Linked DNA regions of Homo sapiens. The protein of the gene in region 1 interacts with the protein of each later gene in a biochemical or structural test. Each region holds a gene or a part of one and is shown on either strand. Other genes may lie near its edges.

Evidence for each region.
Region 2: of the proteins of DUSP1 (region 1) and NEURL3, one has a biochemical effect on the other in vitro, tested with the Homo sapiens proteins (one study listed by BioGRID).

What each region holds. Positions count from the first base shown.
Region 1 is NC_000005.10:172,761,983-172,778,249, forward strand, and holds DUSP1 (dual specificity protein phosphatase 1), read right to left. Parts: upstream 9,214-16,267; 5' UTR 8,971-9,213; coding exon 8,604-8,970; intron 8,325-8,603; coding exon 8,179-8,324; intron 7,813-8,178; coding exon 7,593-7,812; intron 7,151-7,592; coding exon 6,780-7,150; 3' UTR 6,114-6,779; downstream 1-6,113. UniProt on the Homo sapiens protein: Dual specificity phosphatase that dephosphorylates MAP kinase MAPK1/ERK2 on both 'Thr-183' and 'Tyr-185', regulating its activity during the meiotic cell cycle.
Region 2 is NC_000002.12:96,498,162-96,513,552, forward strand, and holds the start of NEURL3 (E3 ubiquitin-protein ligase NEURL3), read right to left. Parts: upstream 7,197-15,391; 5' UTR 7,126-7,196; coding exon 7,098-7,125; intron 6,549-7,097; exon of another isoform or gene 6,370-6,548; intron 2,764-6,369; coding exon 2,278-2,763; intron 1,289-2,277; coding exon 1,217-1,288; intron 1,114-1,216; coding exon of another isoform or gene 1,029-1,113; intron 286-1,028; coding exon 83-285; 3' UTR 1-82.

The DNA.
Region 1 (16,267 bases):
CAAGTACTGGGATTAACAGGTGTGAGCCACCGCACCTGGCCATGAAGTAAATACTTTAACTCCCTTTTTATTTATTTTATTTTATTTTATTTTTTTGACTTGCATCACCTTTTATTACACAAAATAGATTTCAGCCATGTTGCACATTCATTCTCGCTATAGATCTGGCTTTTAAAAAATCCCTAGGGATTCAGTCTCATCGATTTCATGATTTTCCTTTCATTGATGTCAGGCCTCTATTGTAGTCAGAGTCCTCTCAAAGGACAAAAGCAGATATGGCTGCCTTGGATCAGCTGCACGCAGTGCACTCCCGACCTGGCCGCTGGAGGCGCGGCTCCCATCACCTGCACCGCGACTGCTAGGGACTGTCAAAGCGGCAGCATGCCATCGCCTTCTCCAGCCCTTCTCCAGCAGCACAACCAGTCCTCCCAGCTGGTCCTCTGAGGACCAGCCGTCATGGCGACGTGGTGGCAATGTCCCCAGGCAGCCGACCATCCTGGGCTTCTCTTTGGACAGGCCTGGGCCAGGACCTTAGGGGATCTCTGTGTCCATGGTATAAATCTGAATGAGATCAGACACAATATTATCAATGATTGGCTTGGTAAGGTCTTCACCAAACACCTGCCACCACGGCTTCTCAGCCTTAACCTCGGCGGGCACCTCAACTCCGTAGACCTGCAGGGCCAGGTAGAGCACCGCCACCGCGATGTGCTGGGCCTGGAAACGGAGGCACAGACCCCCGTGGTAGCTGTCCCGCAACAGGGCCCAGGCAGTGACGGCAACCGGGGTCCGCTGCCAGCTGTGGCGGTTCAGAGTTTTTGAGGGAAACCAGGTAGTGGAGCAGGTACTTGTGTGGAAGCTGGAAGGAGACCTGGAAGCGCAGAACTCTCAGCATGAGAAGCTCACACTGCACAATGCTGTCCCGGAGCTCCCAGAAGCGGGATTCCAATTCCAGGGGCTCACCGCTCGGGTTAAAGTACCTGTTGGACACATTGATGATGTCATGAGTCCGCAGGTGCTGCTTTTCCGCTTTGCCGGCCAAGTAAATGGAAGACACGGCAATCAGGTAAGGGTCATAAGCGTCCAGGTTGGTATTGCAAAAGAACTTATGGTAAATGGTGCAAGCAGTGGCAATGGGAATGGACCTCATCCCTAGCTTGACACCTGCCTCCATGATGAACCTCGCCACTCGGAAGTGCACCCTGGCTTCGGGCGCCGGTTGCCCCTCGGGGCCCCGCGCTGCAGGCCCCCCTCCGCCGCCCTCCGGGGCTTCCATGAGGCCCGGCGGCCCCGGCGGAAGGAGAGGCTGCTTTGCGCGCAGAGGCCAGCAGAGCGGGGGGGGGGTGCTCGCCACTCCTCCGCCCCACCCCACACGAGGGTCCAACTCCCTTTTTAGAGATGTCAAAACTGAGGGTTTGAGAGGAGAAATAATCCACTCAAAGTCATACAGACACTAACTAGTTGGACCTATCAGTTTTGTCCCAGGTATTTGGAACAGAATCTCAAAATTTCCTTTGGTGGTATGATTTTCACATCTACTGAGTGTTTTACAAACCATGGGTACTTAAAATATGTTTATTGGATGAGTGAATGATTGGTGTCAATCTTGGTGAAACTTTTAAATCCCATCTTTGCAGTGTGCTCCACTGCAGAGGGCTGTGCAGGCTGGGAGGGAAGGAGGGCCCAGGGGTCAGAAGTATGCAGTCCCCCCCCGGCCCTTGTAGGGGAACCCATCCCTGCAAGAACCAGTCACATCTCCATAACACCAACCGACCTTCTGAAGGTCCAGGATCCCTCACTGCCTCTTCCCAGAAAGTGTCTATTTCCTTCCCACTTTGTCTCCCTGAACCAGCCTTCAGGAACCCTGGGGATTCCAGGACCCTCCCAAGTTTGGGTATGGAAGGGACTTAGCACTGGCAGATGGGTGGGAGAGGAGAATAGATGAGGTTCACCGCAGGTTCTTCTTACACATGAGGGTACGAGGCCCCGAAAGGGGAAGCAGCTTGCCCCAGGTTAGTGGAGCAGGGCTAGATGGGCTTAGAACAGAGGCCACTGCTCCAAAGCTCTGATGGCCTAGAGTAAAGCGTTGTCTGATGCGCGCCCAGGGTGTCACTTTGGTGAGGCAGCCCACTTTTGTGGGCGCTCAAGCACGAGCGCCCCTCCGGAGCGCTCCAGAGCCACTCCGGAGGGGCGCTCATGCTTGAGGGACAGAATAGGGAGCAGCTGAGTCACAAGAGAATATTACTGGGCCGTATTACAGATTGGGAAAACAGAGGTTAAAGAGTTTGATAGCAGGCCGGGCGCCGTGGCTCATGCCTGTAATCCTAGTACTTTAGGAGGCCCAGGCGGGTGGATCACAAGGTCAGGAGATCGAGACCATCCTGGCCAACCTGGTGAAACCCTGTCTCTACTAAAAATACAAAAATTAGCTGGGCGTGGTGGTGCGTGCCTGTAATCCCAGCTACTCAGGAGGCTGAGTCAGGAGAATCGCTTGAACCAGGGAGTCGGAGGTTGCAGTGAGCTGAGATTGCGCCACTGCACTCCAGCCTAGCGGCAGAGCAAGCGTCCATCTCAAAAAAAAAAAAAAAAAAGAGTTTGATAGCTTACACACCACTAACAGGTGGCAGAGTCAGGACTTGAACGCAGGTCTAGCCAACTCCAATTCACACGCTGTATCCACTGGTCCACAAACATACCTCTCAAACATCAGGTCTTTGCTGCTCTCCTGGCCTTGGAGCCCTCTTTCCAGTTCACCTCTCAAATGGGCAACTGGGTTATATCATTCAGGTCTTAGTTTATCCTGCCTTCATAGCCTTCATCCTTATCTTATTTTGTGATTATCTTATTTCTATAACCCACCCATATATAGTGCCATGAGACGGCAAGTGACAAAGTAAAATTACTTTTGCTGTTTAGCGAAAATAGCAAAAGTAATTTTAGCTACTTATAAGTAGGAATTTTGTCTTGCACCAAAGTATCCCCTGAGACTATACTTATCAATATTTGTTGAACACATGAATGAATGAATGAATGAACGAATGAGTGAATGAATGCGTGGGCCTCCTGCCTAGCTTTAAAAGCCACATTCAAGGAAAAGGTGGCTATGAGCTTATCTTCCTTGGCAGAGCAGTTTTGTCCACTGTGGCGCTAGCAGAGAGCACACCCTTTGTTCTCCACGGGGTGGAAGACACCTCCTCGGTGGGCAGAGGGGAGCAGGGCTGCTGGTCTGCACCTACAGGCTGTTCTCAAACAGGCTCACCCCGCAGAGCTCTGGAAACGAGGTGAGCAGCCCTCCCACCTGCTCTCCAGAAAGCAACCTGCAGAGAAAAACAGCCCGGGTTGACCTGGATCCACCCGGCGGGCGCGGGGAGGGGCCGCAGCGGCATTGTTTGCCTCTGTGTATGGCAACCAGAAACCACGGCAGCCAGCACTTCTCAGAGGCACCCCGCCCCCCTTTATTTTAATCTCCTAAACTGATTTGTCAGCAGCAGGAAGTGACATGACAGCTTTCCTCACAAAAGGGAAACTCCTCCGCGTTACCATGGGGATGGAGGCCACTGTAGGATCACAGATTTATATAATCTTAAAGGTGTACACACAATGATGTCATCCTCTGACGGGCCAGGGGAGGGAGGGAAAGGGACGCCAGAGGCTGCAAGTCCAAAGCAAATTAGCTACGATTTGCAAAATTCCAAGGAGAGGATGCGGTGGAGGTGGGGGAGGGGGAGTGTTAGAGGTATTATAATGAAATAATGGGTGCCTGGAAACCACAGAAAAGCATAATGTATGCATTGATGCATTTTCTACATCCCAGAATTAGAGAGATGGGAAGAACAGTACTCAGATCCAGTGCAAATTGGTCATTTTACGGGGTGGGAAAACTGAGCCAGAAGAACTGCCAGAAGCCATTAGGACAGAGACAAGGGGATGGAAACATTTCTCCACGGCCCACTGTGTGCCAGGCACTTTACATTCATCAGCCCATGTCTTTCTCACAAGTGAGCCTCAGTTTTGTCCTCTGTAAAATGGGTATTGCTGTCAAAGGTTACTTAACCTTAGCAGTACCTGGCACACAGTGCTCACTCTAAAACTGGCAACCATCATTGCCACATTATCAGTATTAAAAGTCTTATTTCAATCTCTTCCTGGGAAACACATTAATAGACTTTAAGTATCTTTCATCACGAGGTATTAATTTTTTCCCAAGGAAAGCAGTCTGAGGCCAAATATGAGATTTTTCTGGAGGGTCTGAACACAGTGACTCCGGTACATGGGGATCAGGGGTCATCATTCCTGGCTCTCAGGGCTGGCATGAGGCAGAGTGGCTTGAGCCGGGAGAAGTGAGTGACTTGTTTTCACTGGCGGCTCCCTTAGGCAGCCGCTGTATTTTTCCACTGCGTGGATCACACTGGAGATTAATTTTGGTTCAGCCAGTGCCTGCCAAGCAGAAAGCGAAGGCCCTAGCCCACGGGGAAGTCAGCCATGGCATCTGTCACAGACTCGATGTCGCTGGTACATTTCCACGGAGAGAGATATTTACAATAGTAAATTTCTAGGCTTTGATAAAAACACTGGGTACGATTTGTTTTGATAGGCATGAACATACTTGTAATCGGAAACCCAGCTGAGGAAATGAGCTTGCCAGCCCAGGGTAAGTTCTTAGAACTTAGAACACAGGGATCTTTCAGACCCTGGGAGTCAAGTGGCAGACAGTGAGCCACAGGGGCAAAGTCAAGGACACTGATTCTGCGTAAAGACCTTGAACAACAGGACAGGACCAGAACCATAGCACAGGGTGCTCATGGATAAGGCGAATGGGATATTTCCTTTTCTGCTTCCCATAGCACTTTGTCCAGAAACAAAGAGTGGGGTGGGGCGCTAAGGGGCCAGTAATCCAAGAGCTTCGCTGTTTCTTAACGCAACATTATAGACTGGATTATGGATTGGTAGCAATTACATCTCTTCTGTTTTTTGCCTGCTTGGCAAAGGAGTACAAATTCAGAATATTATCCTAGAACAAGTCAGGTTTAATTGCTTATCTCAACAAAACTATGAAATCAGAGCAGCAGGTGACATGAAGGAGGCAACTACCAAAAATGCCATGTCTATATGCAGAAATGCCAGCGTGAATGTCCTCCACAATGTTAGCAATGGTCAGGTTGGGGATGGGCTGTTGCGGGTGATTTCTTTACATGGTATTTGCTTATAGTGCTTGGATTTTTTTTCTTTCTTTTTTTTTTTTTTTGCCAATGTATTTAAATTTTCACAAAAACAAAAGCCTTTTTAAAAGCAAAAAGATAGGTCAGGAGTTCGAGACCAGCCTGGCCAACATGGTGAAACCCCCATCTCTACTAAAAATACAAAAATTAGCCGGGCATGGTGACGCGCACCCGTAATCCCAGCTACTTAGGAAGCTGAGGCAGGAGAATGGCTTGAACCTGGCAGGCGGAGGTTGCAGTGAGCCGAGCTCACACCAGTACACTCCAGCCTGGGTGACAGAGTGAGACTCCGTCTAAAAAAAAAAAAAAAAAAAAGCCATGAGACGGGCAAGTGAAAGTCTGAAACAGATGTAGATTCCAATTCTCCTATTTCTGCCACTTAGCCATGCTGGGTCTCAGCATCTCATTTGCAAAAGGCCTTGCTGAGTTTCTCTAGGGGCAGGTAGCACACACCTGCCTTATGTCATGTGTTTGGAAAAACTTTTGTCTCCTCATAACTCCAGCACAGCTCAGAGATGGGAAGGCGACTTTTTATATTAACCTGAGGAGGGTATTAAATGAAGAAGGCAATCCAGACAAGTGGCTATTTCCTCCTAGCTTTGGCTCTGGGGACACCTTGGCATCCTGGGTGACATGGTAGGTTACAGAGCCGCTAAAATGGGCATGGGCAGACACACTGATCCAATACTAAGAGTTCAGCTGTAGCGTCCGGTGTTTCATGATACTCACTTGTCTTCCTCCCTTGCAACCCAGCCATTTCATGGGACCAACGGGCCACCACAGGGCATGGGATCAGATCTCAACACATTCTGCAGGCCCTTGTCGAAATTCTTCCCTAGTTCACTAGTGGGAGAGGGATTGGGTGTGGTTGCCAAAGAAATAAAAGCGTTGAAATTTCAATAGAAATGCCATAATTTATTCCATTGTATAAAAAAGTCATCCTTATGTAACAAAATGTCTTCTTAGAAGAAGAAATATATTATTTCAGGTCATAAATAATCAGCAAACATACAACTGTTGGCAACTAAAAAAAAACCCAACACTGGTATTTTCCATCAGTGCTGAAAACAAACCTGCTTAAGATATATTTACAGGATAGTACAGTACTCAAAAACAAAAATTGAGGTATTTGGTTCTTCTAGGAGTAGACAATGACATTTGTGAAGGCAGACACCTACACAAAAATAAATAAGGTATATTCTCATATGTATATGTGTCGTCGGGAATAATACTGGTAGGTATGTCAAGCATGAAGAGATTCTACAAAAAACAGGGGCGAGCAAAAAGAAACCGGATCACACACTGAGTCCTTTCTCTTCTGCCCCATTTTGTCAGATGGACTTGATGTACCCACTATATATTGGTCCCGAATGTGCTGAGTTCAGCAAATGTCTTGACGCTAAGTCATCACCATAACTGCTTAGAAACCCAGAGGAACTCGGGTGAAGTTAAATAAATAAGGACCAGCCCTCTCGAGCCCCTCCCAGAGTTATTGCATTTCTCCTCTCAAGGAGCATGGAGTCCCAATGGGATGTGAAGAGCCTCACCTCCCGTGGCCTTTCAGCAGCTGGGAGAGGTCGTAATGGGGCTCTGAAGGTAGCTCAGCGCACTGTTCGTGGAGTGGACAGGGATGGAGACGGGGAAGTTGAACACGGTGGTGGTGGAGGTGCCTCGGTCGAGCACAGCCATGGCGGGGCTCCCAGCCTCTGCCGAACAGTGCGGAGCCAGCACCTGGGACTCAAACTGCAGCAGCTGGCCCATGAAGCTGAAGTTGGGAGAGATGATGCTTCGCCTCTGCTTCACAAACTCAAAGGCCTCGTCCAGCTTGACTCGATTAGTCCTCATAAGGTAAGCAAGGCAGATGGTGGCTGACCGGGAAATGCCTGCCTGGCAGTGGACAAACACCCTTCCTCCAGCATTCTTGATGGAGTCTGGAAAACCAAAGGAGCGGCTGGTTACTTGAGAGTTCAGGAGAACCACCCCAAGCCCAGGTACAGTGTATCTGAGAAAGGTCATGTGTGTCTTGTCTAGAAATGGTCAACATCACCACATGCCATCACATGGATACTGTTCATGGAGGCAACGTGGGCACTGTGCAAAGGATGGCACAGGATTTAAACTCAGACTGGGGATTTCCACTTAGCAGATAGATCTCAGACCAGTCAATTCAACTTTGTGAGCCCCACTTTGCAAATCTGTAAAGTGGGACATCGAATCAAATTCATATTTTACAGGAATGTTGCCCACACCAGACTGATACTGAATGTGTGGAAGAAGGCTCAGAAAACTTCAAGCTCTTGCCACAGAGGTTGGGCTTAGTGGCTAAAATGAGAAGAGAAAGGCAGAAAAGCCCCAGGCATCCATTCCATTTACCTATGAAGTCAATGGCCTCGTTGAACCAGGAGCTGATGTCTGCCTTGTGGTTGTCCTCCACAGGGATGCTCTTGTACTGGTAGTGACCCTCAAAATGGTTGGGACAATTGGCTGAGACGTTGATCAAGGCAGTGATGCCCAAGGCATCCAGCATGTCCTTGCGGGAAGCGTGATACGCACTGCCCAGGTACAGAAAGGGCAGGATTTCCACCGGGCCACCCTGAAATCCAGAAATATCCAACATTCATCAAGCTTGCTCAAAGCCAAGGCCAGTGCCCATACCCACAAAAACTTTCTGCTGGAAAAGTCAATTTCAGATACCGAGTGAACTCAGTTCTGTTGCTGGAGGATAAATAAATAGGGAACTAAGCCCATTTGCCTGGGCAGGACCAGCAAGTTCATTTCCGTAGAGCCTACAATTGGAGACTCGGCTCCGTCAGACCACTTAACTGTGGAATAAATCATATCCCTGTGTCCCCTCCGTTATAAATAATGCTGCAGGTCACTTTCTATATTCTCCCTGGCACTACTCTTCCATGCCTTTGCCAGTTCTTACTTCTTCCCTGTGGCAGGGACACCTACTAACCTGATCGTAGAGTGGGGTACTGCAGGAACTGCACCCAGATTCCGCGCTGTCAGGGACGCTAGTACTCAGGGGAAGGCTGAGCCCCATGGGGGTCGACTGTTTGCTGCACAGCTCCGGGCAGGAAGCCGAAAACGCTTCGTATCCTCCTGGGAATACAAAGACATTTTTTTTCCCCATTAGTGACACCGGGACACGGCACCTTCATACAACTCCCCCACCCACCAAGGGCTGGAAGTTTACATCGGAAAGGCCCAGGCAAGTCTTTGTTTCCAGAGCCAAACAAAGCCAATGACAAGTTCCAGAGATAAATGTACTCCAGCGCCCACGCGCTGCAGGTGGGGCGATCCCCCGGGAGCCGAGAGCCAGGGGTACCGGGCAAAACCTCAGGGGTGTGCGGCCCGCCCCGAGCTTCCCCGAGGGCGTACCTTTGAGGAAGAAGACTTGCGCGGCGCGCGCCTCGCGGCAGAGCGCGCCGGCCGCCAGGGCCAGGGTGCCGTCGCGCTTGGCGCCGTCCAGGGCGGCGCTGCGCTCGTCCAGCAACACCACGGCGTGGTAGGCGCCGGCCAGCAGGCGGCCGCGGAGCTCGGCGTTGGGCACGATGTGCTCCAGGCCCATGGCGCCCTTGGCCCGGCGCCGCACGATGGTGCTGAAGCGCACGTTGACAGAGCCGGCGATGTGGCCGGCGTTGAAAGCGAAGAAGGAGCGGCAGTCCAGCAGCAGGCATTGCGCCGCTCGCTCCCCCAGCAGCGCCCGCAGGCCTCCAGCGTCCAGGGTGCCCACTTCCATGACCATGGCCGGCCTCAGCGCCCCCAGCGTGATCGGCCCTGCGGTGCTCTTTGTCTGTTCTCGGGGCCAAGGGCAGGGCGGCGCTTTTCGAGGAAAAGCTAGACCCCCGGGTCTCTCTGCGCCGAACCAAAAGCCGCTTTTGGACTGAGAGAGGAGCGTCACGCGGGGCTCCGGGCTCCTCGGCTTCTTCGCGGTTCCCCCGACTGCCCCTCCGACCCGCGTCGCACACACAGCCCAAATGTCCTTCGCAGCGAGCCTGGCCCGGGGAGCGCGTTTATATGCGGCCTCTGGGGGACGGGGCGGGCCAGACCCGCGCGCAGGGGGAGGGGGGGTGTTTGTTTGAATGGTGATCACGTGACGGGGCGGTGACGTCACCCGCCCTGCCAGGCCAGGCGCCGCCGAGCCAGAGGGGGAGACGTCATCAGCCTCGGAGCTGGGTCCGCTCGCCGCGCGCTGGCTCGCGGCCCGGCCCCCGCCCTGCTGTCCGGCCTGCTCTTGGCGCGTCCCCAGGGACCGGACCCGCGCCGCGCTCCAGGCCCAGCGGGGAGGAGGAGGGCTCGCTGCCAGCTGAGGCTGACCTCCGGGATGCGAGCGGCCGGGAGAACGGGCGACGTGCCACCTGCCTTGGCCTCGCCGCTCCTCCCTCTCTCCCTCCCCGAGTCCCCTTCCCCGTGCCCCTCGGCCGCCGACCTGAACCGAAAGGGGCTTCCTGTGCTTTTGCATACTCTTGTGCCCCTTTTCCTCATTTCCTCATCACTAACAGGCGGGGAAACTGAGGTTCCCCAGGCGAAGCGACTGACTTGCCCAGAACCACACTACTGGGGTGGGGGCAGCAAATAGGCGCCTAAGATGAAGTTTAGAGAAAAATGAACAACTCTGCCGATAGAAAAGTCGTCCCTACCAAGACCGACTCGAGCGAGTTGGGGCGGAGAGGTTCAGGGCAATGCTTTCCTGTTTCCCAGACTTTTCTTTAAGGTGGCTTTAAAATATCTACATTTGCCATGAAAGTGTGAGCAAGCAAACTCCCACCGGGAAATAATGCTATTCCTAGTCTTGTGGCCCCCGGAAGACTTGGAGCCAAGGGAGGCAGGTCAGGGGGCTGAAATCCCGGTGAGGGGTCGCAAGGCCCCGCAGTGGATTCCAGGGTTTGGCGTTTGGAGGGGTGAGGGGCGACCCGCAGCGCGACTCGACGGCGCCCCCCAGGGGCCGCCCGACACGTTTCTGTCACCTTGGCTCCAGACTGAGCTTCTCCATCCCTTTCTTTATTATACAAATAGGCAGTATACACAGTGAGCGCCCACTAAGCGCTGGGCTGGGGGCCTCCAACCCGGAACAGAAGCCGGCCACAACCCTCGCTCCCTGTCGTCGCGGCCGTTATAGGCCGAAAGCAAAATCCAATCCCGGGCCATTGTGGGCGGATTGCCAGGACCTGGATCGCAACACTTGGGAAGACCCCCGCCCCGCCCAGCGATCTCCGTGCCCTGAGTCCCAGTGACGGCCCCCTGGACAGCGGAGCCTGCTGCAGCGACGCGACGCGCTGGGTACACAAACATAAACATTGCGCCACCCGCCCGGGTGCCGAGTCAGGAACATTCTGCGGTTTCCTCCCCTCCTGGGGGAGGGGATTTCGCTGGCCACCCTGTGTCGTCGCTGTGCGAGCTGTATCACCAGTGGCAACTTCTGCATTTGCCTCGCTTAGCTTGTGTGTTTTCGCCTGCGCAAATGTTCTGCCTGGATTCTTCTAGAAAAGTTCAGGGCATGGAGTGCTTTTTTTTTTAAAAGGGCGTCTTCTACCTTCATTTGAACATTGGTCGAGGACAGCAAAGAGGTCCTCAGATAAGGGCAACGCCCTCCCTGTATGGAGAGATAGAAGAAAAAGAAATTGTTTATACTACTTATTCAGCTGAGGAACTCAACATAGTTTTTGCGTTGAATCATAGAATGTTACAGCTGCTGACTTTTCACTGCATACCGACTTGATTTGTCCCATTTTTTTTCTCACCAAGAGCATTTATTATACCTTCCCCTACCGAAATTTTTCAAAAAGAAAACTTTTTAAGAGCTGGGCGCTGTGGCTCACACCTGTAATCCCAGCACTTCGGGAGGCCGTGGGGGGGCGGATCATGAGGTCAGGAGATCGAGACCATCCTGGCCAACATGGTGAAACCCTGTCTCTACTAAAAATACAAAAATTAGTTGGGTGTGGTGGTGGGCGCCTGTAATCCCAGTTACTCGAGAGCCTGAGGCTGAACCCGGGAGGCAGAGGTTGCAGTGAGCCAAGATCACACCACTGCACTCCAGCCTGGTGACAGAGCAAGACTCTGTCTCAAAAAAAAAAAAGAAAAGAAAACTTTTTAATGCCGTTATCATAGTAGTAGTGGCGCAGTCTGGCCCTAGAGCCAGGTGTCTGCTGGCCTCTCCTGCTTTTCTCTCTCCTCCCTTGCTGGAAAGAGTGCAGAGAGTAGACTTGAACCCTGTCATTTTGCTGCTGGATGGTCAGAGGTGAGTCTCGACCCCTACTGAGCCTCCAAACCCACGTCTGTACAGTGCGTCTACACTGGCCCACTTTGTAGATGGTTTGAGGCCCAAGTGAGAGATGGGGGGTTTAGGGAACTCAGGCCCTACCTCACCCCTGCTCTTTATGATTCACTGTATCTCTAGGGTTTCCCCTTCCCAGCAGAATGGTTCTTTATATATCATCATGCCCCTGTGCCTTTCAGAGACTTGCCTCAGAACCAGGGAGAAGGTCACTGCAAGCCATCTGCTTATGAGATACATCAGTGGACAGGGGCCCAACTCAGGCAGAGCTCCTCTTTAAGGCCCACTAACACACAGTGCTCGGGCCAGTGGGTCACCTGCCCGGCGACAAGTGGTAAACGTGTAGCCACCTAGGCCCCCAATCCAGGCAGTGGAGATGCTGCTTCTGACTGAGGATGGAGCCAAAGAGAGCCCAGCATAATCTGGTCTCTGTAACCACAGAAGGAGTGAGGGACTGGCCTTGTGGGCCTGGCTGCCAGAGGGAGTGAAGCAGATAAATCAGTGGATGTTGACTCAGGGGAGAGAATTGGGCCTTTCTGACCTGGGCTGTTCCCAATTCTACCTAGTCCTGCTTAGGAATAAACCTGGAGACAGTGAGGAGTAGCGGAAAGAAGGGTTCAGGGTTCCACACTCCCCAAAAAGCTGGCCTGGATTTTCTACCTTTAATGTGTGGCCTTGAGTAAGTGCCCCCATGGTGCTGAGCTCCACCCCCTCCTTCCCATGATGGAGAGAAGAATAATAACATTCACCTCCAGGGACTCTGGGGAGACTCAGTGTAGCCAGGGTTGGCCCTAGCTCACAATCCCTGTCCTAATCCTGCTCTCAAAGGCGACTTTGGATCTCTCTTGGGATCACAGGAAAAGAAAAGAGTTGAGCTCCCGCTGATGACAGTCAGAAAGAGGCCCCCGCTCACTGTCTGCTTGGTGACCTTGGGCAAGCAGCTTACCGTTTCTGAGCCTCTGTTTCCCCATTTGTAAACTGGGAATAACATCCATTTAGGACCAAGTAAAACAGTGTATAAGAACCTGATGTGGATGACACCCAAAGAGGGTGCTCTCAAGAGAGGGAGCAGGGCCCCACATTCATGTTCCCTCTTTCAAAAACCACGGCGTTTTTCCTGTCTCCCCTGTGCTGTATGGGGGTTCCTCCCCTCAATAGCCTTCTATAACTCCCCATTTCTTAGCAAATCCAAAACTCACTGCCACTGGGCCTCGGCCATCTATATGGCTCAGCTTCCCACTCTCTTTGCTTTCTCTCTTGTGCTCCAGGAAAATTCTGTGGGCCTGTGTTCCTAGAATGTTCTTGTCCTCTCCCACATCTTTGCTCACATTCCTCCCCCTCCCCCTGCCAGACAGTGGCCCCTCTGGGCTCCCCCATAGTCTTTCCAGGTGAAGACTCCTCTGGTTTCTCCAACTTCTCCCTCTCCTGCGTCTGGAGGACATTGTCCGTATATTCTGATTGTGTACAAGTCACCTAGATCTTTGTCGTACTCTCCCCAGGTTCTAAGTTGGTCAGCTTGAGGGCAAGGGGTGTGTTTTTCTCAACATTGCACTCCCCAGCCTACTACCTTTGATGCAGTGCCTGGCACATAGTAGGTTCACAATTTGGGAAACGGTAGAATTGTTTCAAAGGGTACTGTTGAAAAGTGTCAGAAGAGAGGAGGGTGGTCACTGACACTCATTAGGCCTCACCTCTGGGCCAGGTGCATTACAGGTATCATTCCATGAATCTATCAGTGATCCTGTGAGGTGCTTGTTGTCCCCATTTTATAGGCAAGGCAAGAGGCTCAGAGAGGAGACATACCAAAGGTCACATGCCTAAGGTTATAAAGCTGGTAATCATCAGACACAGATCCAAACCCAGCGCCTGTCTGACTTGAGAGAGGGAGCTGGGCCTGGGTCTGTTGAGGCCTCCGCGTCTGCCAGCCCCATGTCTGGCAGCACTGGCTGAAGCCTCTGCCTCCCAGCTTCCTGGAGTTCTTCTCGCTGGACGGAGTGGTCCCTGGTGTCAGCCCAGCAGGGAGCCTGGAGCCTTCTAAGACTCCCAACTCAGGCCCTAGTGCCGCTGCTGAAGAGACTCTGTAGCCACTCAGGCCTACCTTGAGGGACTGGCAAGGGGCTGACTTCACCCTCTACACCCAGGCAGTTGGGACAGAGCTAGCTGCCATTGCACAATCTTTACAAACAGATCTCCATGCTCAGACCTGGCAGGGCCCACAGAGCTGTGTCATCCTGTCTAACCTCCTCATTTGAGAGGCAAGAGCCCAGAGAGGTTAGGCAATCTGTCCAAAGTCACACAGTGTTCAGAACATTCTAACCGTAGTCAGCATTGTGTGAGCTGTGTGTCCAAACCCTTAACAGTGTTTATCTTTGGAAGGTGGAGTTCCTCTCATTTTCTTCCTTATGACTCTGAATGATTTGAACTTTTTAAACTTAAATGTGTAACTTTTGTAACGAAGAATAAAAGAAGATTAGAAGGCAATCATATGTAGGTAACAGCATTGTTGTTAAAACCAAGTTACAGAGTTAGACTGCCTGGATTAGAATCCCAGCTTGCTTACTCACCAGCTGTGTGTATTTGGGCAAGTTACTTTACCTCTGTGAGACTCAGTTTTCTCATCTTTAAAGCGGGAATAATAATCATATCGATCTTGTAGGGCTGATAGGAAGGTTATATAAGACAGTGATTGGCACACTAGAGCCTGTGAACCAAACCTAGCTCGCTCCCTCCTTCTGTACAAACCACAAACTAAGACTGGTTTTTATATTTTAAATGGTTGGGGGAAAAAAATCAAAAGAAGAATCTCATTTTATGACATGTGAATGTCATATAAAATTCAAACTTCAGTGTCCATAAATAAAGTTTTATTGGAACACAGCCACACCCGTTCCTTTACATGGTATCTGTGGCTGCTGTCACACTACAATGGGAGGCGTATATTGTGACAGAGACAGTATGGCTCACAAAGCCTCAAATATTTACCCAAGTCCCTTTACAGGAAAAGTTTGCCAACCCCTGATAGGAGCTCATGGATGAAAAGTACTGTAGAACAATGCCTGACACAGAGTAAGTGTTTAGAAAACTTTGTTATTATTATTATATAGATATTTATAAAATCTTCTTCCCTTCCGATGTTTTTAAAAGCAGTAATTGCTTTCATCATATAATTCATTGTGTTGAAGGCACAGTTTTCATATTTTAGCATTTCTCAGAGTGTAACAATTGGAGGCATGTCATCATTAATTGACAGCATTTTCCTTTCTTAATGGTGCACAGATTAATGAAAGGGCCTCAGAACTGATGACATCTTAGAGCCAGTAGATGCAGTAAAGTATAAAAGGTTTAAGATGGAGAAGAATTAAAGTGCTACAGTCATTCAGTTAACATCCGTTCTAGTAGTGGGACAGACTTGTTAAGTGCCAGGATAGAAACTGGGTAGCCCAGGAAAGATGCCCAGAGGAGGGGACGTCTACTTGGAGATGTAAAGGCTGATGTAGGATAGAAATACCTGGAGGAAATGCCTTTGAGAGGTGGGCCTCAGTTACTTACCACTTTCCCCCGGAAGCCTCACCTCCCCATAAAATAAGAATAGTAATAACCCCTAAAGACCACTTTGTGATTCATTTTCTTTTCTTTTTTTTTTTTTTTTTTTTCATTTGGAGTCTCGCTCTATCGCCCAGGCTGGAGTACAGTGGCGCGATCTCAGCTCACTGCAACCTCCGCCTCCAGGGTTCAAGCGATTCTGCTACCTTAGCCTCCTGAGTAGCTGGGATTACAGGCACCTGCCACCACGCCTGGCTAATTTTTGTATTTTTAGTAGAGACAGGGTTTCACCATGTTGGTCAGGCCGGTCTCAAGCTCCTGACCTCATGATCTACCTGCCCTGGCCTCCCAAAGTGCTGGGATTACAGGCGTGAGCCACTGCGACCGGCTTATCAATAATCATTTATATCTCTCCCACTAGCTTGGAAGCTAGGGCATGATTTCTTGTCTCTCTTGGTCCCCAGTACAGATCTCAAAGCAAGGCTTGTTGGACAAATAAATGAAGATGAGCCCAAGAGCCCAGGAGAGGGACCGGGAACAGCAGGGCCTCCGTGACTCACACAAGCTTCATCCCTGAACCAAGGACGCAGCCTGCCAACAATGGCCCCAAGCCACACCCCGCCACAGGGGGAACTGATGCTGCGGTGAGAAGTGACAGCTTTCTGTTGACTCTTTTTTTTTTCAAGCAGAATATGAATTGAGACATACTTTCATTTTCATAATCAGAACCTAACACTTAGTAACCAATGTTGGTGGAAGCAAATGAGATCACAGTTTGTCTGTTCCAAACTCATCTCTGGGAAAAGGAGGAGGAAAAATTATTGGCACTATGTTCAGAATCATAGCTGAAGATGCAGAAATTGTTCATCCCAATTTTGCCTTTGTAAGTAATGTGGGGGCAGTTCTTATTAGTAATTGCCAATCTCTACTGAGACACAGTATTTTGCTAGGCGCTTTATATTCATTTCCTGGTATGATCATGACATTAACCCTGTGAAATGCGTACCCTTACTATCTCCATGTGAAGAAATGAGGGAACTGAGGACCAGAGAGGTGAACTGACTTGTCCAAAGACACACAGTAAGGGCTGTGACTCTCCGCTTTCTAAGATTTTTGTTCTTATCGCTCCACAGCACATAGCAGGCGTAGTATGAAGGCAGCATGCTGCACAATTTCGCTGTTTGTTTCTTGGAATAATAATTTATAGGGGACTGCTTCTAGA
Region 2 (15,391 bases), on another chromosome or scaffold:
GTAGGGCTGCGCCTCCTTCCTCTCTGCAGGGGCCAGACTCAGATCTAGGCCCGGGCTGCCACTCATACTGGGAAGCCTCCTTTCATGAGCCTTCCTCAACCCTCAGAGCAGGAGGGCCCTGCGCAGGGGCTACCGCCTCTATCTGCCAGCGGCACACAGGGCACTTGGCCGTATCGCTGAAGACCCGCCAGGCACAGTATCTGCAGAAGTATGTGTGGCCGCAGGGCACAAGGCGGGTGTTGGCAGCGTGATAGAAGCAGATGGCACACTCCTCTCCTGGTGTGGCTGGAAGAGGGAGCAACACAGGTCAGGGCACATGGGGGAAGGGGTGGGCAACCCGCTCACAATGTGACCACAGAGAATGACAGAGAAACATGTAGCTATATTTTGAAGAATGTTACCTAGTGAGGAAATGCTTACAGTGTAATCAAGTGAAAAAAAGGGGGAAGAAAACCATTTTTTATATACATATATTCCAATTCCAATTTAGAGAGAAGGAAAACGCAGCACAGACAAGTCCCTATATACACACGTCTATATCGATGACCGAAAATACTGGGAGGAAATCCACCCAAGAGGTAATGGGTGCTTTTTTTTTAACTTTCCTCTTTATCCTTTAATCTTTTTTATTTTTTAGAGACAGTCTCACTCTGTCATCCAGGCTGGAGTGCAGTGGTGTGATCACAGCTCACTGCAGCCTCAGCCAGCTGGGCTCAAGCCATCCTTCCACCTCAGCCTCCCGAGTAGCTGGGGCCACAGACATGCACCACCACACTCAGCTAATTTTTGTACTTTTTGTAGAGACAGGGTTTCGCCATGTTGCCCAGGCTGGTCTCAAACTCCTGGGCCCAAGCGATCCTCCTGCCTCGGCCTCCCAAAGTATAGGGATTACAGGTGTGAGCCACTGCACCCCACCTATCCTTTCATCTTTATTTCCATTGGCAAAGCATTTACAATGAATGTGGATGATTTTTTAAAGCAAGAACAAAATAACACTGTCTGTTCATAAAAGTGCTCTTATAACTCACAGAGTAGGCAAATGCTCTCGAAGGCAGAGATGCCAGGTTGCTTTTAGGTTTCCAGTAGGCAGAGCCAAATCTTTTGGCCCAAAGCCTGTGAGAGACTTGAATGAACAACCAGTAGGACGTGGGGCTTCTCCCTCCACTCCCAGGTGCTGGATTCCCGGGGAGTCCCTGATTCTTGGGAAGGCACTCACCTTTGGGCTCAGGCACAGCCTTGTTGCTGAGGTCCCATGGCATGGGTGTTGGGAGCCGGCTGGCTGTGGGATCTGAGGCAGAGAGAGAAACTCAGGTCCAGGACGGCAAGCCCAGGTGCCCCCCCATCCCCGCCCCTGGCCCCGCAGCAAAGTGTCCGGTCTCCTTTCTTTCCTGGGTTGCAATGCTGAGCCCCCATCCCCAAATTTTAAGACCCTGTCCTGGCCATCCCTTCCCCAGCTTGACCCAGCTGAGAATCCGAGAATCCTTGGGGCTGGAGATTCCTCCTCCTGAGCCACCTTCCTTCAGGCCCCTCTTCTTTGCCCTCCAGCCGCTGCCTGAGTGGAGACCCTCGGCCGAGCCACATTCCCAACCCAGATGGGCATCAACATCTCCCAAGAGCCTGGACAAACACAGGTTCAGGGCTCCACTCCAGACCCAGCAAATCAGGTGCTTCAGGTGTGAGGCGCTGGCAGCTGTGACAAATGGTTTTAACAAATTTGCTGGCAGGAGGCGGGGAGTGGACCACCACCCGGCCCAGGAATGCCAATATTTCTTGTTATGGGTATTACTGCCTCTCTGTGCTCTCCTGAAATCCACCTTCTTCTGGGGTGGCTAAAGGGATGGCTCTCTTTTCCCCCCCACTGACTGAGAGGCTCAGCTTTCTCCCTGCAGGCACTCTCCATGCGCACCTCTAGCCTCACCTGTGTGTTCCCTTTGCTTGCCACCTTTGTATCTAGTGAACTCCTATTTAGGCTGCAAAGCCAGCCCAAATGTTTCTTCCTTTGTAAAAGGAGATGGACACTCTAACAGGTGTTTGAGTAACAGATGGTGTGAGTGCTGGTCCTATCTGCTTATCATTCTTTAGGGACAAGACTGCCCTCCCTACGACTGAGCCTTGTCTATCTGGCGTCTCCAGTGCCCATCTTCACAGCTAACACTGGGCAGGGGCTGATGGAATAACTGAATGTGAACGTTCTTCCTGTGGCTCTGGATCGGTGTGGGGTGCCACTGGAGCCCCCATCTCCCCACCTCCCCTGCGGGGTCCCCATGGTCGCCTCACCCAGCAGCTCGATGGCCTTAGTGGTCCCATACACGTCCATCACGGCCCAGAGCGGGGCGCCGACGGGCACGCCCTCACGCAGCAGGAGCCGGCAGCCGGCGTTGACCTTGGCGAAGAGGCAGCCGCGGCGGTCCACCCAGAAGCGGACCAAGTCCCCAGTGAGCGCGCAGCCCTCAGGCAGCACGGCCGCCCACGTCGGGCTCTGCTCCTCCAGGTCGGGGCACAGGAAGGGCGGCAGGCTGGGCACGGACACGCACGCGGGGTCCAGGCGCGTGAAGCCCACGCGGAGGCCGCCGCACCAGCCGCTCTCCTCCCGCAGCACTCGCAGCGCCACACGCTCGCCCAGGCGCACCGGCCGCTGGCTGAACACGATGCCGTCGTGGAACGTGGTGCGCCTGTGCGCGATGCAGCCACGCGTGTCCAGACGCACCTGTGCGCCCTTGGCCTCGGCATGGAAGCGAAGTGCCTCTCGGGGCGCCTTGGCGTCTGTGGGTTGAGGATGGGGAGTGTCAGTGCTAACCGGGTCTGGACCCACCAGCTCCCCAGAGAGCCCCCAGTATCCCAGAGTCCCTCACACCTGGGAGCACCTTGACCTTCCCCTAGGGACCATTTCCACCTCTCTCGGTTCCTGCAGGGTTGTTATGAAAACTATAGGAACTGATGTCTCTTTGTACTCTTCCTGCGACCAATCTAGTAATGGTTATTATTGTTCAAGAGAAAGAGTAGGGTTAGTCAGGCATAAATATCTATATGTTTGTTATACACGGTTTTTTTGTTTGTTTTGTTTTGTTTTGTTTTCAGAGATGAGTTCTTGCTGTGTTGCCCAGGCTGGTCTTGAACTCTTGGCCTCAAGTGATCCTCCTGCCTCTGCCTCCCAAAGCGCTAGGATTACAGGCATGAGCCACTGCGCCCAGCCCATACATTTATTCCATATGCACCTAAAAATGACGGAAGAGGAGACAGACAGATTTGCTGACTGTGGTCTGCTCCAGGAGGCTGTCTGCTATTCCCTCTCTGCTTGTCTCTCTTGTTTTCCCATGGGGAACTGCATCACTTGTGAAGACCATGGCCCCCAGCAATGGTGACATCCTTGTCCTGGGAGAGAAAGGGGCTTGGCTGCTCCCCACAGAGTATGGGTGCAGGCTGGAGAGGAAGTCCCAGGTTAGCCCCTCAGAATCCTGGGTGGGGTCCAGCCTGGCTCTGGCATGGGCTCTGAAACCAGGGGACTTCCCACAGGACTCTGCCTGGCAGTCAGAAGGGGAAAGCACCTCACTGAGCAGCCCTTCCTCTCCACTCAGCCTGCAGGAAGCTGGTGGGGCTTCCTACCCCAGAACTGCCTTAGCCGGCCTTGCCCCTCCCCTCCTGGTCCTGCTCTTTCTGGGCTGGGGGAGGGAGGCTGGCTGGCTGTTTGCTGTTGAAAATAAAAGGCGAATTCAATCAGAACTTAAGCCAGACCCCATCCTAAGGAGCAAGGCCACTCCCCTCCCAGATCAGGTCACACTCCCCTGGCAAGGCAGGCACTCTGACTACACACAGGTTTACACCCTCTAGCAGAGCCCAGGGCCAGGAGGCTCCATCTGGTCAGGCACCAGGACACGTTTGCGGTGACAGTGACTCTGTCCCTGACTTCCACAGGCCAAAGGTAAGCCTACCTGCAGTGACCTTTCCCCAGCATTAAAGACCAGTGCTCACCGTGGCCTTGGGACTCTCACAGAGCCCTGTGTATCCGCATTCACCCCTCGCCTGCGCCCCGCCCGTGCCTTCCCATGATGCACTCATCCCTTCCTGCGAATCCCAGCAGGCCTGCCCAGCTCCCTGTGCCTCAAGGCTGCACCTAGGCAAGGAGAAGTCCCAGAGCCAGCACACATGGAGAGCCGGAGCCATGCTGGGGTCCCTGACATCAGTGAACCTGACCTTGTGCCCATGGTTGAGGCTGCTCCATGGAGGGCAGTGGGATACCAGCTGGGCCATGGCTAACACCCCCATTCCAGGCCTGCCCTGCTGCTGGCCCAGGCAGGTCACTGTCCTCCAGGGCCCAGCCTCCTCACCTACAAACGGCAGTGAAGTGCATGTCCAGCAAGGCCAGGAGTCTCAGGACACCTGTCTGGAGTCTTGTTCACTGCCTACCTGGCCAGGCATGGGGCTGGGGGTGACAGGGCAAGTGGGGCCTCTTGGCACAACCAGCCACAATCTAGGAGGGCAGAGGCCAGCCCTTTGGCTGGGTCACTGCCCATCCCTGAGGTGGGAACTGGAGAGAAGCCCTGGAGTGGGCTTGGCAAGAGGCTGGAGCAATGGCCCTGGACGAGGGGCGGTGCCGGAGATGGTGGCCGGCATCCGAGCCCTCTCTACAAACTGCCACACCCAATCCTGCTGCCATCCTAAGAGGCAGACAGTGGGCAAGTGGCTAGCCCCACCCCACAGCAATCAGGGGCAGAACTAGGGTTGATGAGGAGTTCTCCCAGCCTCACCCAGTGCAGCCCCTACAGAGAAAGGGGAACCCCTGGGGTCAGGGGAGCTGGAGCCCTGTCATGCTCAGCACCATGGGCCTAGACGGGAACCAGCAGAGATGAGCCCGTGCTCATTGGGGATGGAGTTTCCACCCTACCCTCTAGGCAGGTGCCCGGGACAGAGGCTGGCTCCATGCAGGACTGGCTCTGGGGGCAAGGAGGGGTGGAGGACGGCAGGTGACCTCACTCCTCCATCCACTTCCTGGAGGGAGTAGGGAACTGGCTGGCTGGAGGCAGTCCAGGGAGGAGGGGAACTCCCCCGGAATGGCCTTGAGGGTGCATGAGGCCCTGGGAGCCCTTGAGAAGCAGGCCTTGCCCTGGAGGATAATTTGACAGTTTGCAAAGCTCCCCGATCCCTGCTTCAGGAGCCTTCTCAGCAGCCCTGTATGGAGCTAAGTCCTCATGTCACCAGGGCTGGTGGGTGCCGAGGGGACGTGGTGGCTGCACAGGTCATTCCGCAGCCGGGGCATCTAAGCAGCCTCCTCTGTGCTGCTCACTCAGGCTCCACCCCCTACCTCGGGCAGCCCCCTGGGACCTGGCAGGGCAGCAAAAGGTCCCTTAGGGCACAGCCTCTCATCTATGAAGACTCTTGGTCTGTCTGCATGGTCATGTCAGCTATTCACTGTGCACCACCAAGGCTGAGTGGGGCCGAAACCCACCCCCGACCCACCAGCCTGGCAAGGGCCCACAGGACCGTGTCCACCGACTTCATACAGGGCTCTGTGCCTGGGTCTGGAGCAGGGTCGGGGTGGCCTGACGGGTGTGATCACCACCTCCACTCCACCTGCCTCCTCCCACGAGGCCTGCAGGGGTCCTCCCACACTTTGACCCAGGCAGCCCGGGACACCCCACTCCCAGGGTGGGGAGTGGCAGAGGTGGGCATAGGCCACATGTGGCTCTCCAAGCAGACCTGTCCCCAGTGGCTGGGCTGGCACAGGGTTCAGATCATCCTGGTGCCCAAGCACCCTCACACCTAGAGGCAGCCGCTCTTTCTATGGGTCCTGTTTGCAGGCAGGACCCTGAGCTCAGAGAAGCTGAGTGCCCTGCCCATGGGCGATCGCTCCAATTACTCCACCTGCCCCGGGGTCCCCACTGCTGAGGGGGTGGACTGCCTGCGGGCTAAGCAGGGCCTCTGGGGTGTCTCTACTCCAGGACAGGTAGAGTCAGATTCCAGATTCTCTAAGATCTTGGAATCTGAGTGGGGCAGGGGCGGCCCCTTGCTCAGCAAGAGCCTCTAGGGATCTCCATCCTCACCACTCCTCCAGGTGTCAAGCCTTTCAGGGTGTCAGGCACCCATAAGCACTTTGCAGCCTCTTTTTCTCCTCATCCCGCCTCGGGGAAGCCCTCAGAGCTTGAGAAGGCTGTGCTAGTCATCTGTGTTTTTGCAGCCAGAAAGTGGGGGATCCCAGCGCTGCTCCTGGCTGCTTCACTCTCATGCCACCTCCTTTAAGGCCCATCATTTCCCTGCCAAACACCATTACTGTGACAGCAGCAGTGGCTCTTGGCACAGCCAACTACTAGTCTGTGAGCCCATGGTGCCCACCAGGGGACAGAGGACCCTGAGCCCAGGCTCCCAGCTCTTTACCTGGGAGGGTAGGTCCAGAGATGCACAACCCCAATAGCTGGTGCTGAAAGACCAGGTCCTCAAGGCCGGGTGCGGTGGCTCACGCCTGTAATCCCAGCACTTTGGGAGGCCGAGGCGGGTGGATCACGAGGTCAGGAGATCGCGACCAACCTGGCTAACATGGTGAAACCCCTTCTGTACTAAAAATACAAAACAAAATTAGCCGGGTGTGGTGGCGGGCGCCTGTAGTCCCAGCTACTCGGGAGGCTGAGGCAGGAGAATGGCGTGAACCCAGGAGGCAGAGCTTGCAGTGAGCTGAGATCACGCCACTGCACTCCAGCCTGGGCAACAGAGCGAGACTCCGTCTCAAAAAAAAAAAAAAAAAAAAAAAGACCAGGTCCTCTATCTCCCCCACATATGGCTCTTCCACTACGGGACACCTGTGGCCTCAGGTGAGGCTTGCAGAGAACCTTTGTGCCTATCACTCTTTTGATTTGTGCGTTTGATTTTATAAAGATCCCTGTAAGCCAGCAGGCATCGTCCCTGGCCTGGAGATGTAGAAACTGAGGCCCAGGGACAAAGTGACTTACCCAAGGTCCCATAGCTCAACTTGGCAGAACTGGGACCCCACCAGCCCCCTAAACTTTACACTGACCACATCTCTACTCCAGCAATGACACAGAGCACCCTCTGCTACCTGTACCCCCAGTCCAGAGACCAAGCTCCAGGCTTGCAGGAGGTCTACTTACTGGCCTCGAAGCAGAGCTGGGCACCCATCAGTCTAAGGTCCTCGGGCACAGGTCCCCAGGTCTAGAAGGAACTGCCTGGAGAAGGCCAGTGGACAGGTTACCAAAGATTCAGCAGGTCTGCTTTTTATGGGCCAGAGATCACGTTACAAAGTTGATGATTAATTCAATGGTGCTGTCATGTGTTACTATATCCAGGGGATTTCCCAGTGATTTCTCCTGACTCGCAGACTGACCTGCTGGAGCTGGCCGGCCTAAGAGAAGGAAACAGGAATGGGGGTCTGGCCTGGGTAGGTCTTACGGTAGCCTTCTTTCTCACTTCTGACCAATCTCAAGCTGGCTGTGCATTGTAATGGTCCAAGCATGTTAATAAATACCTATGTCCAGCCCCGCCCCCAAAGACTCCGGTTCCACTGGCCTAGGGTGGAACCCAGGCATCAGGAGTTTACAGAGCAACGCAGATGATTCTAATGTACAGCCAGGATGGAGATTCACTGCAGCAGACCCTGGCACACAGAAGGAACTCAATCTGTGTTGCTGAAGCAGATTGAATTGCATTTGCTGTATCCCAGGACCTGGGAAATTGTGCACCTCCAACAGAAAGGAGGGGTAAAGCAGACAGAAGAGGAGAGGAGCTGATGGTCCCTCCAGCCTTTCTCACTGGAATTTCTGGGAATTCCACTTTCCCAGAACTGCCACAAAATGCAAATAGCCCTACAGACAGTCACTGCAAAGGTCTAGCTCCCAATGTGTTAGCACTGGAAAAGAAGCCAAAGGTATTCTAGCCCGTCAATATTTATTTCGGTTAGGAAAACTGAGGATCATGGAGGGAAGGTGGCTTACTCTAACCTAGTGCTCCTCACTCACATTGCAACATACTCTCAAATCTCCTGGGGATCTTGTTAAAATGCAGATTGACTCAGAAAGCCTGAGGCCCTACCTGAGATAAGTGGACCCGACTTTTTTTTTTGAGACAGGGTCTCACTGTCATTCAGGCTAGAGTGCAGTGGTGTGATCATGGCTCACTACAACCTCAAACTCCCAAGCTCAATTGATCCTCCCACCTCAGCCTCCTGAGTAGCTGGGACCACAGGTGCATTCCACCATGCTCAGCTAATATTTCTGATATTGTGAAGACAGGTCTAGCTATGTGGCCCAGGCTGGTCTCAAACTTCTGGCCTCAAGCAGTCCCCCCATCTTGGCATCCCCAGGTGCTGAGATTACAGGCATGAGCCACCGCACCTGGCCAAGTGGACCCCACTTTCGGGGGCAAGGGCCTGGTGGGTTTGGAGCCTTGTGAGTGCCCTGACCCTCAACCTGTGGGCTAAGCCCCTCCCAAGACCCCAGATCAAGGCCACAATCAGTGACTGCTCGGCTAAGGGATGGCTAGTGCCAGGTACGTCTCCACCTTAGTGCAGGCTGCCTTGGGTGGTTCCCCAGAGCGCTGCAGCCATGCATCTTGTTAATAAATCACACTCTCATGAGAGGTATGTATGGCATCTTATTAGGGAAGTCAACTCTGAGCCTCAGACTGTCTGGAAAATTACCTGGCAAGCTATGGCCCTCAGGCCACCCAAAGCCAGCAGGCTGGGGTGGTATAGTTGCATCAGTGGGACCTTGGGCCATGAGGCAGCTGGGGGGCAGAGGAGGTCATTCTGAGGAGCTAAAAAACCTGCCTAAAGCCTCCCGTCCAGGGTACAGGCATACCCGCCACACACTCTGTGTTTGTTTATTGAACAAACTGCCAGGGTTCAGGACATGCCACCCCAAAATATGGCACTTTGGCATTTAAGAAAACAGCAGAAGCAGGAAGGCCTCGCTCACCTTCCCTTTGCCCGAATCCCCTGAAGTAGGGCCATGAGGCCATAAGACCCATCCTTACCTCTGAAGACACAGGGACAGAGAGAAGAATCTGAACAGGCTGGCCGACTCTCCCCGGTTTATTACCCCTTCCCCCTTTAGCCAATCACTTCTCCACGATGCCCACTCTTCATGAAACCAACGCATAAAAATACATGTCCCCATTTCTTTGGGTCTTCATTTCCAAAGGCCCCTGTGTCATGTAAAATTTACATGAAATAAATTTGTGTGCTTTTCTCTTGTTGACCTGTCTTTTGTTATAGGTGTCCTAGCCATGAACCGAGCAATGGGTGGGGAAAGATTTTACTTTTGTACTTTTCCTCCCCTGCAGAATGCTACCGTTTTTGTTGTTGTTGTTGTTGTTTTTGAGAGGGAGTCTCGCTCTGTGGCCCAGACTGGAGTGCAGTGGCACGATCTCGGCTCACTGCAACCTCTGCCTCCCAGGTTCAAGCAACTCTCCTGCCTCAGCCTCCCAAGTAGCTGGGACTGTGGCGCTCTCCATGATGCCCAGTTAATTTTTGTATTTTTAGTAGAGATGAGGTTTCACCATGTTGGCCAGGATGGTCTCGATCTACTGACCTCGTGATCCACCCGCCTCGGCCTCCCAAAGTGCTGGGATTACAGGCGTGAGCCACCGCTCCTGGCCCGGAATGCTACCGTTCTAAGTCCAGAACTTACCTGACAGTCCTCATGGCAACTCCTCAAAAAGGTCCTGTTTATTGTAATCATTTCCATTATACACGTGGGGAAACTGAGGCACACGACAGTTACGCAGCTTGTTCAGCTCACTAGGCATGACGTGACAGGCTGGGATTGGCCCAGGTATCGTGGCTGGAGACCGTCTGCCTTGCGCCCCTCCACGGCCACTCGCCGCGGAGACTCCGCCCCTTGGAAGTGCCCCCTAATTAGGAATATCTCCTCCACTGGACTGCGCGGGCACAGAGCAGGAGATTTGTAGATAGGCCTAACTTGCTGCTGAGTGTCAGGTTGAGGCTGCCCCGCAGTAGATGTCACCCGCCAGCCCCGCTGCAAACCTTTGCTCTGAGAGGGGCGGGCCCGTGCCCTCAAGCGCGGGGCGGTCTCCGCTGTGCAGAGACTGAGGCGGCCCCTGCTGGCGGCGGTCAGTACTGCAGGAGGCGCCGAGGGCCCGGGAGCCCCCAAAGCCGGGAGGGGCGCCCCAGAGGGAGGTGAGCGGCGCCGAGGCTCACTATACCGCAGCTCCCACACACCCGTCTCCCAGGGTGGGTGGTAGCCTCACTGGGACCCCTCTGTTGCAGTCGGCCTCTCTTGCCCAGAGCCCCATCACTACACATGTCTTCACGCAGGTTATCTCTCAAGACTCAACCCGCGCTCCGGGAAGAGCCTGGCACACGAGGAAGCCACTGCTGCCCCGCGCCCACTCCAGCGTGCGGCCCAGCGGGACCGGGAGCCCAGCCCAACCTGGGGCACTGTCAGGCAGCCCGGTCCCTCGTGGGCCCTGCCATTAAGGCCCAGGGACGCCTACCTATGACACTTGCCAGCCCTCATCCGTTCCCCGCCGGGCCAAAATCTCAGAGGGCAGGGGCTGCCCTGCCTAGAAACCAGCCCCAGAACATCAGGGCCGCGGGCGCTGTGGGCGGTCGGCCAGGGCGCGCAGGGGCCAAACAGGGCAGCGTTGGGAGCTTTTGCACAAGGCACCCCTCTGCCAGCCTCATGGCCCAGCCATGCCACCCCCGTGAACCAAGTGTGCTGGCCCACAGCAGCGCTCTGCACAACAGCCCCAGCCTGGAAACAAGCGAATGTCCACTGCTGTCCACCTCACACTCAGCTGGGGGAGCTGAACTGCTCAGATCCCCGGGAATGCAGGGCCCATTCCCCGGAGGCCAAGGCCAGTGTCCCACCCACACCCAGTCCAGGCCTATGCTTCCCCGGGTCTGCCGCCTAAGCAGCCCTGTCCCTGATCTCTGTCTCAGAGGCTGCTCCCGGCCCAGCTTCCCACAACCATCAGCAGGACCTAAACTGCCACATATGCGCGCCATGGAATACTGTGCCAATGACAACAAATTACTGCTACCTGCAACGACGAGGATAAACCTCACAGCCGTGAGGCTGATGTAAGGGAAGACCCAAAGAGCACCGCGTGCTGCCATTCATAGGAAGTTCAGGCAAAACCCATCCGTGGTGTTCGAAGCAGGACAAGGCTGCCTTTGGGAGGTAGTGATCGGCAGGGACACGGGAAGCCTCTGGGGAGCTGGAAACGTCCTGCACCTTGATCGTGGTCACACAGGTGTGTAGATGTACAAAAAAACCCTTCCAATCGGACCCTCAAATCATACATAAATTGCGTCTTCGTGTTATGTTGGCTAAGCCCTTCCAGCCCTAACAATGTCGTTCTGGCGGAGCTGGTGAGTCAGGGAGCATCCACGCCGCCTGGGAAGACCGGCTCTGGAGGCTGGAGGGCTTGACCAGCACTGCCACCCGGTGGCCGGCAGCGGAACTGACCACAGGCCTGGTGCCCTGGAGGGAATGGGCCACAAACGCTCCGCCAGGACTGCACCTGTGTCCTAGGCGCCGCCCTCAGCCACCAAGTCGGCCTGCCTCTCGAGCACCCAACAACTCCAACAAGCCCTCTGGACCAATAGCTGCAGCCCCCACGGGGCCTTGGGGGTGGGAGGGAGGAGAGGGAGGCCAGCCTGTAGCACAGTACCAGCCCAGAGTTATTAACAGGTCTGTGCTGTCACTTCCGCTCTGCTGCGGTCCTCCTGGGTCCTGATTCTGCCGAGCGCCTCCACAGCCTTCCTCCCTCCTGGTTCTCCCCGCCAGCAGCCAGCACGGGAGCGCCCACTGGGCATGAATGGGGAGCCTGCCAGAGAGGGGAGCTGGGGGAGAGAGGCACAGCTTCCAGGCCTGGCGTGGCTGCTCATGCCTGTGCGTGAGGGAAGGGTCAAGGGAAAGGTGTGCCCTCTCTTCTTTTGGTTTCTTGTTTTCCTTTTTCCCGTGCCCCCTCACCCCATACACAACTGTCAGGGTGTCTGTCCTGGAAAGACACCTGGTACCTGCCCTGGTGGTGCCTGCCCTGTGTGGGGTGTGTGTATGCGTGTGCATGCGTGTGCATGTGTGCATGCATGTGTGTTCAACAGGAATTGATTTAGTGCCTGCTATGTGCCAAGCACTGTCCCAGTTCTGGGTAACCAGAGATTGAAGGAAACCCAATCCTCATCCTTCAGCCACTTTGTGCATGCCCTGGAATTTAGGTAAGTGCTACAAGAGGGCCAAACTGAGGGCTGGGAAAACCAGCGGTGTCGAGGGGTTGTTATGCCCAGGGAATGGGTGAAGGTTTTGTGGAAGAAGAGTTATTAAAATTGTGCCCTGAAAGGTAAATAGGATTTCAACAGCCAAGAAAGGAATGAAAGGCATTTCAGGGAGAAGGAATACACACACAAAAGCATAGGAAAGGAGACATGATCTGTGCTGTATGGTTGTATCAGGTAGGATTAGGATTGCTTGCATGCAAGAGAATGTCCAAAAGGACAGTGGCTTGAGCAAGGCATGTTCATTTCTTTTTCACATAAAATAAGCTGAAGACAGGCAGTCCAGCTAGTCATGACACCTCTGCAGCCATAGGGGACCCAGGCTTTCTCCGCTGTTCAGCTCCACCATTCTAGCACTGGCCTCAAGGTCACGTCATGTACCAAAAGTGCTGCTGGAACTCCAGCCAGTACATCAGAGCTCCAAGCATCAGGGAAGAGAAAGACTCAAATGGGCACTCCTCTAAGCTAAGCCAAGCCAGCTTGCAATTAAGCTGATTTACTGGAGGGCCTATGTAACGTTTTCATTTATAGCTCATTGGCCAGAACCTTGTCACATGGCCACAGCTAGCTGCAAGGGAAACTGAGAAATGTGGTCTTTATCGGGAAGAGCAGCTAAAAATTGGGGTCTGTCACTAAGGAAGAAGGAGAAACTGGATGTTGGTGGGAAGCCAGCACTGCCTAGCCCAGGGTAGAGTGGAGCAGTGGTCCTTCAACTTGTGGGGAGGGGGGCAGGAAGGCAGCCTGATCACAGGGGCCGTGCCGTGGAGGGGCTGGACTCTTCCATAGCAAATAGGGGATTGCTGAAAGATTCTCAGCAGGAGCCAAGGGTTGAGGAACCTGGAACTGTCTGCTTGGGGGAAAGAACCATTGGGCAGAAAATGGAAGCATGCAAGGAGGGGAAGGGAACTGTGAGAAGTTAATAAGGGCACGAGGCAGGGAAGGGCACCCCAGGAGAGCCAAGGCTAAGCCTGGCAACAGTGGGAGGTGATGCCAGGGCCCCGGGGAGGGACACAGATCTACTGAGGGTAGTCTGGGAGGAACACAGTACTAGCAGATAGCTGTGTCTGAGGCAGCTGTTAACCATCAAGTCAGGTGGCTCAAAGGCAACTGAGAATCCAAGTGGAAGCTCAGGTGAGATGACAGCACTGGGAACATAGATGAAGCGATCAGTCATACAGTGGTGGATGGGATCAGCCAGGCAGGGATCCAGTCGTTCAGCTGGAGGACTCTGATGGATCTTTCGGAGTTACTGGGGAAGGAGAACAATGGAGTGACCAACTGCATAAATTTTGAAGCCAGAGCTGGGTTCAAATCCAGACTTTAACAGCCATAAGCCTGTGGGCTGGCTAACAACACTTTCTAAGCCTTAATTTTCTCATGTGCAAAATGGAAATAAAGAGGCCTTCTGTGCGGGCTGATAGGAGGGCTGAATGAGTAATGAGTAGCACATTCCCACACAGGGAACTGCACTAACCAGTAAATACCTGCTCTTACCAGTAAACCACCCCCCCGCCCCCCACTTACTGAAGAGGACATCAGTGCCTTTCTTGGGGCCATTCACTGTGCCCGACAGTCCTCTCACTGCAAGGTGGGGCCCGTGGAGCCCTGTGTGGGATCGCTCAGGTGAGGTCACAAGCACTGTGCCTCTCCAGGACCCTGAGACCTCCAACCCAGCATGGCTAGGGCAGCCCCTGGCTCTGCCAAACCTCCTGGACAGGGGCATCTGCAGCCCCAGACAGGTGGGTCAAGAGAAGTGTTATGCCTCCTGCCAGCAGGGAAAAGGGGCCAGAGTAGGCCATGGCATGCCCCTTTCCTTAAAGGGCACAGCCAGAAAGAGCACACATGGCCCAAACTTCAGCTTGAATCCCATTGACCAAAGCTTAGTTGTGTGGCCACATCCAGCTGCAAGGAACTGGGAAGTGTAGGCTTCATTCTGGGCAATCATGTGCCCAGCTAGACAGAAATTGGAGTGTTCCAATATTACAATAGAGAAGGAGAGAATGGATATTGAGGGAAAACAGCAGCCATAGGGTGCAGGGAAAGAGAGAGGGCATGGCACCCTGGGTGCAGGGTGGTGGGAGGCTCTGAGCGCTGGGAGACCCCATGCCCCTGGGACTCACATGTGCTGCATGCACATCGCCTGGCACCCAGCCCGCAGGAACTCAGCTGTGGGGGCACTGTGGGTGGGTGGGCAGGGGAGCTGTTGTAGCTGAGAACCACCTCTACTGGCCAGAAGGACAAATCACCAACTTCTCCAGTAGAATTTTTCCAGATCCCTGGAGTTCCTTCTGGTCCCTCACCAAAGCCAAAATAGCGCAGAGAGGAAGAAAATATCTTCCTTCCACTCCTCTGAGTTTTTGCCCATTGTCAAAGCTCATTGCAGCCATTGTCATTGTCTCTACTGCCCAGGCCTTGGGCACAGTCCATCCTCCACAGGCAGGGATTGACCATTCCCTAGGTCTCCTGACACCCCCTCCACCCTGGCAGAGCTAGGGCCAAATGTTCCCTGCCAGAGTGGAGTGGACTCCAGCCCATTCTGTCTTAAGGAGCCTCTCCTCTCCCAACTTGAGCTTTTTTTTTTTTTTTTTTTTTTTGACGAGGTCTAGCTCTGTCAAGAGGGTGGAGTACAGTGGCACGATCTCGGCTCACTGCAGCCTCTGCCTCCCGGGTTCAAGCAATCCTCCCACCTCAGCCTCCCGAGTAGCTGGGATTACAGGGGCATGCCGCCATGCCAGGCTAATTTTTGCAATTTTAGTAGAGATGGGGTTTCACCACGTTGGCCAGGCTGGTCTCGAACTCCTGACCTCAGGTTATCTGCCTGCCTTGGCCTCCCAAAGTGCTGATATTACAGGCGTGAGCCACCATGCCCAGCCCCCGACTTGAGCTTTGAGAAGCAAGCTAAGAGTCAACCCTTCCCTCTGAAGCGAAGCACTACCTCTGCCCTGACTGGGCTGCTGCTGCCTCTCTCTGCTCCTCCTTGTGTGTGAAGATATTCGGTGGAGGGAAGAAAGACAGGGTCCTCAAATCCTGTCAGTGTATCTGAGTTGTCTTGGCTTGGGTTAGGCTCTGTGTCTTCCAGTAGCTAACCTGGAGCATGGGTCCCCGGCGCCACACGTGCATGCACACCGTCCTTATGCTTTCATTCCT